Regions from separate parts of the Homo sapiens genome. Here region 2 is linked to region 1. The links come from fine-mapping of genetic effects on gene expression. Tissue or cell type: whole blood. Region 1 holds a variant in brackets; the other region holds the start of a gene. All regions are shown on one strand. Distances are between the middles of the regions.

What was found. PIP is the estimated chance that this variant, and not a neighbour inherited with it, causes the effect.
Region 2: NEK11 starts here. The variant in region 1 is fine-mapped to the expression of NEK11 in whole blood (INTERVAL, PIP 0.91).

Annotation. Positions count from the first base shown.
Region 1 is chr3:131,128,035-131,133,244 of GRCh38, reverse strand. NEK11 (NIMA related kinase 11) reads right to left here. Exons shown (of 18, transcript NM_024800.5): 6 at 436-500. Among named protein-coding and RNA genes, the nearest start is that of NEK11, 100 kb to the right of the region's middle. The variant T/A (reference allele first, on the strand shown) is at 2,794.
Region 2 is chr3:131,023,873-131,029,005 of GRCh38, reverse strand. NEK11 (NIMA related kinase 11) reads right to left here and starts at 2,129. Exons shown (of 18, transcript NM_024800.5): 1 at 2,000-2,129; 2 at 1,004-1,076. ASTE1 (asteroid structure-specific endonuclease 1) reads left to right here and starts at 2,181. Exons shown (of 6, transcript NM_014065.4): 1 at 2,181-2,499; 2 at 3,412-3,532; 3 at 3,675-5,001. The coding sequence starts at 3,700. RefSeq lists enhancers at 1,820-2,009, 2,090-2,149, 2,290-2,529.

The DNA.
Region 1 (5,210 bases):
TAAAGGTTAATAAAGCCATTATATCAACATTTTCATTATCTATAACCACTTATTGCTTGTGATGAAATAATATAAATGAGAAACCTGTAGTAACTAATCAAACCAGTAAAATGATTCTAATAACTTGTAAAGTGCCTGGCATGAAACAGGGAACTCAAAGTATATTTGAAAAATCTATCAAATATGTGGTAAATTTGTACACCTCAATTTATATCAGATACTCAGAAACAAAACAATTAGGTTTTGTTGGGCCCATCTAGAAACCTGAGAAATTTAGTGTTCATTTCAGCAGCACATGTACTTAAAAATTTGAGAAATTTAAACAAACCAATGATTACTCTAATACTTCCACGTACCATTTACTTCAATTTGATATGATAATATCTAGAATATACTGTTCTGCGTTTTTGGAATTCATACTTTTTAAAATCTTACCAATTTTAAGGAGATTATTTTTCAGAAATACATTCTTTGACTTTAAGTCTCGATGAAGTATCCTCCTACAAAAGGCAAAAAAGATATACAACTTCATGCAGAATATAACATTTTTAAATCCCCATGTAAATAATATATGTTGTTGCACATGATTTACACATAAATATATACTCCCATAGATATATCTTTCAATGTTTAAAAGCTACAAAGCCACAATACTTTCCAGTTTCCCTGAGGAAACAAAAGTTTTAAAATAAAGATTTTAAAGGTTGGGGAACATGTAGTTTGGAGAACGGTGATATGCTTTCAACTATTTCAATAGGCTATATTTTATTATGTTTTTGTAGCATAATCTACATAGTACTATATCCAGTAACCATATCCTCAATTGATAGACCAGTTTGTAATCTATTATTACCCAAATGTCCAAGTTTTATATACTTGTGAAAATAATAACGTTGTTGATGATATTTAAGAATAGGTAACATTTATTAAATCTGACTATAAGTCAGTAATGTAAATTATGTCAGTTAAGACCTTTATTTTATGGAATTATAAAGAACTAGAAAACTTGAAAATCTTTGCATAAAAAAACTAAAATGCCGAATAAAGTATACAAATATCTTCATATATGCACAGTTGAGCTCACATAAAAATGAAAAAAAATCCCTGCGAATTATTCAAAAAGAAACTGAAAGTCATTCTAGGCCATAAAACATTAACAAATTTGAAAGAAGAGAAATCATACCATTTCTGCTCTCACATCAAAATGGAATCAAACTAGAAATTAATAACAGAAAGATAACTGGAAAATCCCAAAATATGTGAATATAAAACCACACACTTCTAAACAATGAAGAAGAAATCTCAAGAGAAATTTTAAAATATTTTGAACTAAATGAAAATGAAAACACACTTTATCAAAATTTGTGTGATATAGCAAAAGCAGTGCTTAGAGGGAAATTTACAGCACTGAATATATATATTAGAAAAAAAGAAAGATCTAAAATCAGTTATCTAAGCTTCCACCATAGAAAACTAGAAAAGAAAAGCAAATTAAACCAAAAGTAAGGAGAAATATTACAGCAGAAATAATAAAATTGAAAACAAGAAACCAATAGAGAATATCAACAAAAATAAAACTGGTTCTTTGAAAAGATCAATAAAATCAACTAGCCTCTAGCCAGCCTAAGTAAAATAAAAAGATAGAAGACAAAAACTATTAAAATCAAAAATGAAAGAGAGGGCGTCACTACAGATTCCGTGGACATTAAAAGAATAAAAAAGCAATACTATTAACAATCTATAACCACAAATTTGATAACCTAGATTAAAAGAACCAATTCCTTCAAAGACACAAGCTGCCAAAAATCATACAAGAAGTAGACAATCAAATAGGCCCATCTTCAGTAAATACATTCAATCAATAATTAGTAAGTTTCCAAATAAAAAACACTGGGCCCAGATGGGTTCACTGGCGAATTCTACCAAATATTTAAGGAAGAAATTGCACCAAATATCTATAATCTCTTTCAGAAAATAAAAGCAGAGGAAATACTCCCTAACTCATTTTAAGATGTCAGCATCATCCTAACATTAAAACCAAACAAAGACATTACAAGAAAAGAAAACTAAAAACCAGTATCTCTGATGAATGTAGATGAAAAAATCCTCACTGAAATATTAGCAAATCAAATCCAACATTGTAGGCCAGGCGTGGCAGCTCATTCCTGTGGTCCAAGCACTTTGGGAAGCCGAGGTGGGTGGATCACCTGGGGTCAGGAGTTCGACACCAGCCTGGCCAACACGGTGAAACTCCATCTCTACTAAAAATACAAAAGTTAGCTGGGCATGGTGGCAGGGGCCTGTAATCCCAGCTACTTGTGAGGCTGTGGCAGGAGAATCGCTTGAACCCGGGAGACAGAGGTAGCAGTGAGCTGAGATCACCCCACTGCACTCCAGCCTGGGTGACAGAGCGAGATGTTGTCCAAAAAATATACATATATATATCCAACATTGTGTCAGGAGAATTATACACCACAACCAAGTGGGATTTATACTAGGTATGCAAGGCTGCTTTAACACTTGAAAGTCAATTAATGTATCCATCACATCAACAGAATAAAGAAGAAAAATCACATGAAAAAATCAATAGATGCAGAAAAAGCAATTGACAAAATCCAATACCCATTCATGACAATAACTCTGATAAACTAGAAACAGGAATATTTATAACAAACCTACAGCTAACATCACACTTTACAATGAGAACCCTGACGTTTTTCTGCTGATATCAGGAACAAGGGAAAAATGTCCCCTCTAATCATTTATTTTCAACATTATACTGAAAGTCCTACC[T/A]AATTAAGTAAAACAAGAAAAGGAAGTGTAAAAGGAATAGAGATGGGAAAGGAAAAAACAAACTCTCTGTTTACAGATGACATGATCAGCTAAGTAGAAAATCCAAAAGAATCAATTAAAAAAACCTCCTGGAATTAACAAGTAATTAATTCTGCAATGTTGCAGAATACAAGGTTGATACACAAAAATCAATTGCTTTCCTATATACCAGCAATGAACAAGTAGAATTTGACATTTATATCAAACTATATTTACATTAGTACCCCTGAAATGAAACACTTAGGTATAAATCTAATAAAATATGTACAAGATCTATATGAGGAAAGCTACACAACTGTAATGAAAAAAAATCAAAGAAGAACTAAATAAATGGAAAAATAATCCATGTTCATGGATAGGTAGACTCAATATTGTCAAGATATGGATTCTTTCCAAATTGATCAATAGATGCAATGTAACCCCAATCAAAATCCCAGGAAGTTATTTTGTAGACATTGATAAACAGATTCTAAAATTTGTATGGAAAGGCAAAAGATCCATAATATTGGGTCTTTTGAAGGAGAACAACAATGTTGGAGGACTGATACTACCTGATGTCAAGACTTTCTATAAAGTACAGTAATTAAGACAGTACAGTATTGGAGAGAAAAAAAATCAATAAAACAGAATAGAGAGCCCAGAAATAAAACTGCGTGAATACAGTCAACTGATCTTTGACAAAGAAGCAAAGGCAATGCAATGGAACACAGTCGTTTCAACAAATGGTGCTGGAACAACTGGGCATTCATATACAATAGATGAATCTAGACACAGACCTTACAGCCTTTGCAAAAATTAACTCAAAAATAAATCATAGGCCTAAAAAATATAAAACTATAAAACTGCTAGAAAATAATATGTGATAAAATCTAGATGATTTTAAGTTTGGTGATAACTTTTTAAATATAACACCAAAGTCACAATCCATGAAAGAATTGAGAAGCTAGACTTTATTAAAATAAAAAATTTCTGCTCTGTAAGAAAACACTGTCAAGGAATAAAAAGATAAGCCACAGACTGGGAGAAAATATTTGCAAAAGACGTATCTGATAGACTGTTGGCCGGGTGCAGTGGCTCAAGCCTGTAATCCCAGCACTTTGGGAGGCTGAGGCAGGCAGATCACAAGGTCAGGAGATCGAGACCATCCTGGCTAACGTGGTGAAACCCCATCTCTACTAAAAATACAAAAATAAAATTAGCCAGGCCTGGTGGTGGGCACCTGTAGTCCCAGCTACTTGGGAGGCTGAGGCGGGAGAATGGCATGAACCTGGGAGGTGGAGCTTGCAGTGAGCCAAGATTGCGACTCTGACACGCCTGCGTGACAGAGCGAGACTCAGTCTCAAAAAAAAAAAAAAAAAAAGACTGTTATCCAAAATATACAAAGAACTATTAAAACTCAACAATAAGAAAATAATCTGGTTTTAAAATGGGCCAAAGACCTTAACAGACACCTAACCAAAGATGATATACAAAAGGCAAATAAACCTGAAAAGATGTTTTACATCATATGTCATCAGAGAAATGAAAATTAAAACAACAATGAAGTACCACTACACACCTATTAGAACGGCCCAAATCGAGACACTGACAACACCAAATGCTCACAAGGATGTGGAGTAACAGAAACTCTCATTCGCTGCTAGTGGGAATACAAAATGGTTCAGCCACTTTGGAAGACAGTTTGGCAGTTTCTTACAAAATGATACAAATGCTTATCACATAATCCAGCAATCATGTTCCTTGGTATTTATTCAAATGAATTAAAAACTATGTCCACACAAAAACCTGCACAATGGTGTTTATAGCAGCTTTATTCATAATTGCCAAAACTTGAAAGCAACAAAAGTGTCCTTCAGTAGCGGAATGGTTAAATAAACCATGGTACATTCACACAATAGAATATTATTTAGTGCTAAGAAGATATGAGCTATTAAGGCATGAAAAGACATGGAAGAAACTTAAATGCATACTACTAAGTGAAAGAAGTCAGCCTGAGAAATCTATATATGATTCCAGCTATATGACAATCTGGAAAATGTTAAACTATGGAGACAACAAAAAGATAAGTGGTTGCCAGGGTTTAAGAGGGAGGGAAGAATGAGTAAGGAGAGCACAGAGAATTTTTAGGGCCATGCAACAACTTTATGATACTAAAATGATGGGTACATGTCATACATGTGCCCAAACTCAAAGAATGTATAGCACTAAGAATGAACCCTAATGTAAACTATAGACTTTGATGATAATGATCTGTCAATGTAGGTTCATCTGTTATAACAAATGTATGACTGGTAGCAATGCTGATAACAGGGGAGGCAATGCATGTGTGGGAGCAGGGGGTATAAGGGAAATCTCTGTACCTTCCACTCAATTTTGCT
Region 2 (5,133 bases), 100 kb after region 1:
ATAATCTCTCTGGATTAAAAACAGGAAGAGTTACAAATTCAATTCAAACCTAAAATCCCATTTAATGTCAGTGGAATATAAATGCTACAGATAAATCTGTAATTCCTCAGGGAGCTATGAGACGTGGCAGTTATGAAAGGCAGGACTGTTTAGGCCGGGCGCAGTGGCTCACGCCTGTAGTACCAGCACTTTGGGAGGCCAAGGCGGGCGGATCACGAGGTCAGGAGATCGAGACCATCCTGGCTAACACGGTGAAACCCCGTCTAATACAAAAAAATTAGCCGGGCATTGTAGCGGGCGCCTGCAGTCCCAGCTACTCGGGAGGCTGAGGCAGGAGAATAGCGTGAACCCAGGAGGCGGAGCTTGCAGTGAGATCTCGCCACTGCACTCCAGCCTGGGCGACAGAGTAAGACTCCATCTCAACAAAAACAAAAACAAAAACAAAAACAAAAAAAAGAAAGGCAGGACTGTTTCATATGAGTAGGTACAAAGTAAAATCACTTTTATTTCATCAGAATGTTAAATGTTTTGTTAGTTATCAAGAAAAGTGTGCTTTTGTTTTAAATCTATATAGAAATAACATTTTAAATTGAAAACTGCCTACACCTTGAAGTTAGGTTTTCATATTCAACAATTCCAAAGCTATGAGACAAAAACCTAGTTTTTAAGGATGGTCAATGGGCTTTACGTGGTGGTGTCCGTCAACCACAAAAACTACTAGGGCAATTAACCACAAAAATCCTCAAAACAGAACATAAGTAAATGCCCATTTACAACATTTTCCTTCTTAAAATGTATGAATCAGTTAAGTTGTACCTAATACCAGTGAGATTAGTTACCAGCTTTTTCTTTTCCCTTCCAAAGACACGTTAGTAAAATCTGCTGGAAAAACAACTACAGAGCAGGCCTCTAAATATACCTTTTGTTTTTACTTCCCCTTCACTGTCATAAAAGTGATGCCGTCTGGCCATACTAAGCTGTTCAAATAAATATATGGACTTACAGACTTTCCAGCTGAAAAGGGTCCTTCAGGTCACTCAGTAATTCTCCTTATTTTAAAGATGAGATTAAGGTTCCTTTTAGAGAAGGACAGAATTAGGGACGGACAGAATGAGAAGTTCACTTCTAGCGGCTCTTATTTTAAAGGACAGTCTAAACCCAGCAGTGCTTAAGTAGTCTGGTCCAGGCTGCAGAAGACTCTGGGACTAGGTTCCCTCCCGCCCACCCTCACAGACTCAGCCCTGCCACCCCCATCCCAGTCCACTTTTAGGTCATCCATTCCATTAGTCTCCTCTGCGCAACCATAAACCTACCCAAGAATGTGTCGCATTGTCTAGATTCTAGAACTATCTGTTCACTTGACAACACGCTCCCCCTCGAGGTTTGAGTGAACTTGGGCACTGCGAACACATCTTCTTTATTTCTGCATCCCCAATCCCTGGCATACCTCCTGGCATATACTAGGTGTTTAACAAACCTTGTTAAGGCAAGTAAGTGTCCAGCAGATCAACTGCCGCCCAAAGGAGAGAAAAAAGGTTAGTTAAGAAAGCTAGATGGGAACTTGGAGAAAGTTACTACCTTGTGCAAACTACCCGTTCTCGGTGAAACAGATCTGGCTGGGGGCAAAAGACAACGGAAGGAGTATTTATCACAAGTTGAAAACCAGTAGTTATCTTCCCAGGTAATAAGAGGAAGGCAATTTGTCACCAGTTTCTGCTACAGCACAAATCTACCTTTAAAGTAAATCTTAACCTTAAGGTAAAACGAACAATTCCTTGCTTCTTCACCTTTTTAAACATTTACATTTTGGCAAAGCAGGTTAACGTTTATTGAGGGGCACTGAGACTGGAGTACATCCGGAGGTAAGATGTCCAGGAAAGCGAGGAGATCGCAGCCATGGCGTCCTAGAGATTCGGAACCCAGCCCGGGCAGCTTGAAACCATTACCTTCCCCCTCGCAGGGGAGCCTGGCTAGCCCCAAGGAGGACAGTTCGCTTTACCTTTCCCTGTCGTGGTCGGAGCGGCGCCCGGGGCTGCCCAAGTCTTGCGGGTAATCGGGCAGGCCTCAAACTAGGGGCAACCACACCCACCGAGCGCCAGACACCGCGGGCCACGGCTGTTTGGAACCGTGGCCAGGGAGACGGCGCGGGGCATACTGGGAAGTCGGGGCGAGGCGGCACCAAGGCGGAAGTGTTCGCCGACCCAAGTAGGCGGAGAAAGCAGAGGAGGACCGGCGGGCCAAGCTTTCCTAGCCTGACAGCAGCCATTTCGGAACGTACGTCCCAGCCCTCTTTAGCTACTTAGCGCCTCTGGGCCCGAGAACACCTGCTCCTTGGCTCAGTCTGGCGCCACCGGCATCACGGAACTGTACTTCCCAGAGACGTCACACCGGGAGACTTCCGATTCCCGCTCTTGAGATTGGACTCTCACGTGCAGGAGCCAGTCCTCGCTGGGCTCTAGCGGGCTTCTGATGGAGGAGCTACTCCTCTGGGAGGACAGAGTAGGTGGGCTCTGCTGCAGGTCCGGGCGGCGGGTTGTGAGGGCCGAGGTGGCACGGTGTATGAAGGCCTGTGTTTGAAGACTTAGGTCAGACCTTTTGCCCGCCTTTCCCCTATGCAGCTCTATGCAACTGTCTGTGCAAGGTCCTGTAATTTGCGTAGGACGCCTTGACACAGTCTCTGCTTATGGACGCTTTACAAAACTATCTTGCAAAGAAATAAGTACTATACAGGATAAGGTTCTGAGATACTGACAGGGCTGGAACTAGGGTGAGATAAGTGTAAAATGTAAATGGATGCCAATAAAATTCAGTAATCAAGGTAAGTTTTAATGCAATCTCTAAAAATCAAAATTATAGCAAAAAAAATCCATGACTGACAAAATGTCACGATTTTAAGTAATAGTAACAGTACCGTGCTGTGCCATATTGAAGCCCGAGGTGTCAAAAGAAAAACCATCAATTCTGATCCTGCGAGTTAAGTTAGCCAGGTGAGGAAGCGTAGCTGGGCCAGATATGCAAAATAAGATGATGAAAAGAGCTCGTGGTTAGGGGTGTAACTGGATAGAGGGGTTCCTAGAGGCATGAAGCAGTTTTCCTTATACCAAAAACTATGCCAATTAAGAAGGGCCCACAAATCCAAAGCCTGAAAGAAGTTCCGTGACTGATTGTCAATACAAAAGAAAAACTTGATCCTTATCATAGGTCCTACACACCTTACTTTACTGAAGCCCAAATGCTTTGTGATTATGAGATGAATATGATATCTTTTTTTTAGCTTAGGACTTTTTACTTTGACCCCACAAAACAAATACTCTGTGCTGTAAGATGTTGACTATTACCACTTAAGAATCAAAGTTCACAGAACTTCTATACTGGTGTGTCAGTAATGGACTTCAACTGATTTTTCTTTAGAATTAGCAGCAGCCTCTGTCACCATCCAAAGATTACAACCCATGAAACCATTGAATTTGTGCCTTGTATCAGAAAGCAAAGGAGAATGAAAAAGCACAGCTAACATTGCTTGAGGATCTAGGTAAGAATTTATGATGTTGATATCTATGTTCTATCTAAAGAGCACTTCATAACATTTGCTATTGATTTAATGGTGCTGGAAGCAATGACTTGGTGCCCCATAACTAGCATCAATTGAAAATGTTTTCTGTTGTTTTAAACAGGCGATTAATTCTTTAGACTGTCATCATGGGTATCCGAGGACTAATGAGTTTTGTGGAAGATCATAGTAATGAGTTCTTCACTGATTTGAAGTTGCGGGACACAAAAATTGTCATTGATGGTTATGCTCTTTTCCACCGTCTTTGCTTCAGTTCAAACTTGGATCTCCGGTATGGAGGGGACTATGATTCTTTTGCAGATGTTGTACAAAAATTCTTTGAATCACTGTTTGCTTGTAATATATGCCCATATGTTGTATTAGATGGAGGATGTGACATTTCAGATAAAAAGCTTACAACTTTAAAGGATAGAGCTAGAGAGAAGATCCAGATGGCCCATTCCCTTTCTGTTGGTGGGAGTGGGTACGTATGTCCCTTACTCATCCGGGAAGTATTCATACAGGTTTTGATCAAGCTGCGGGTGTGTTTTGTCCAGTGCTTTTCAGAAGCAGATCGGGACATTATGACACTTGCTAACCATTGGAATTGCCCTGTGTTATCATCAGATAGTGACTTTTGCATTTTTGACCTGAAAACTGGGTTTTGCCCATTGAATAGCTTTCAGTGGAGAAATATGAACACTATTAAGGGCACACAAAACTATATCCCTGCCAAATGCTTTTCCCTTGATGCATTCTGCCATCACTTCAGCAATATGAATAAAGCTCTACTACCTCTCTTTGCGGTGCTATGTGGAAATGACCATGTTAATCTACCCATCATGGAGACATTCTTAAGTAAAGCGCGTCTTCCTCTTGGAGCTACCAGTTCTAAAGGGAGGAGACACCACCGAATCCTGGGACTTCTGAATTGGTTGTCTCATTTTGCCAACCCTACCGAAGCACTAGATAATGTTCTGAAATACCTCCCAAAAAAGGATCGAGAAAATGTTAAGGAACTTCTCTGCTGTTCCATGGAAGAATACCAACAGTCCCAGGTGAAGCTACAGGACTTCTTCCAGTGTGGTACTTATGTCTGTCCAGATGCCTTGAATCTTGGTTTACCAGAATGGGTATTAGTGGCTTTAGCTAAAGGCCAGCTATCTCCTTTCATCAGTGATGCTTTGGTCCTAAGACGGACCATTCTTCCCACACAGGTGGAAAACATGCAGCAACCAAATGCCCACAGAATATCTCAGCCCATCAGGCAAATCATCTATGGGCTTCTTTTAAATGCCTCACCACATCTGGACAAGACATCCTGGAATGCATTGCCTCCTCAGCCTCTAGCTTTCAGTGAAGTGGAAAGGATTAATAAAAATATCAGAACCTCAATCATTGATGCAGTAGAACTGGCCAAGGATCATTCTGACTTAAGCAGATTGACTGAGGTAAGTATTTGTAATACTAATGAAATTTTTGTAAAGTACTTTACAGGATACAAAGTGCTGTCTTCTATATTAGTTCACTTACTATAACAAACTGATGAGGTTGAGTGCTATCTTGCCCTCATGTCGTAGCTA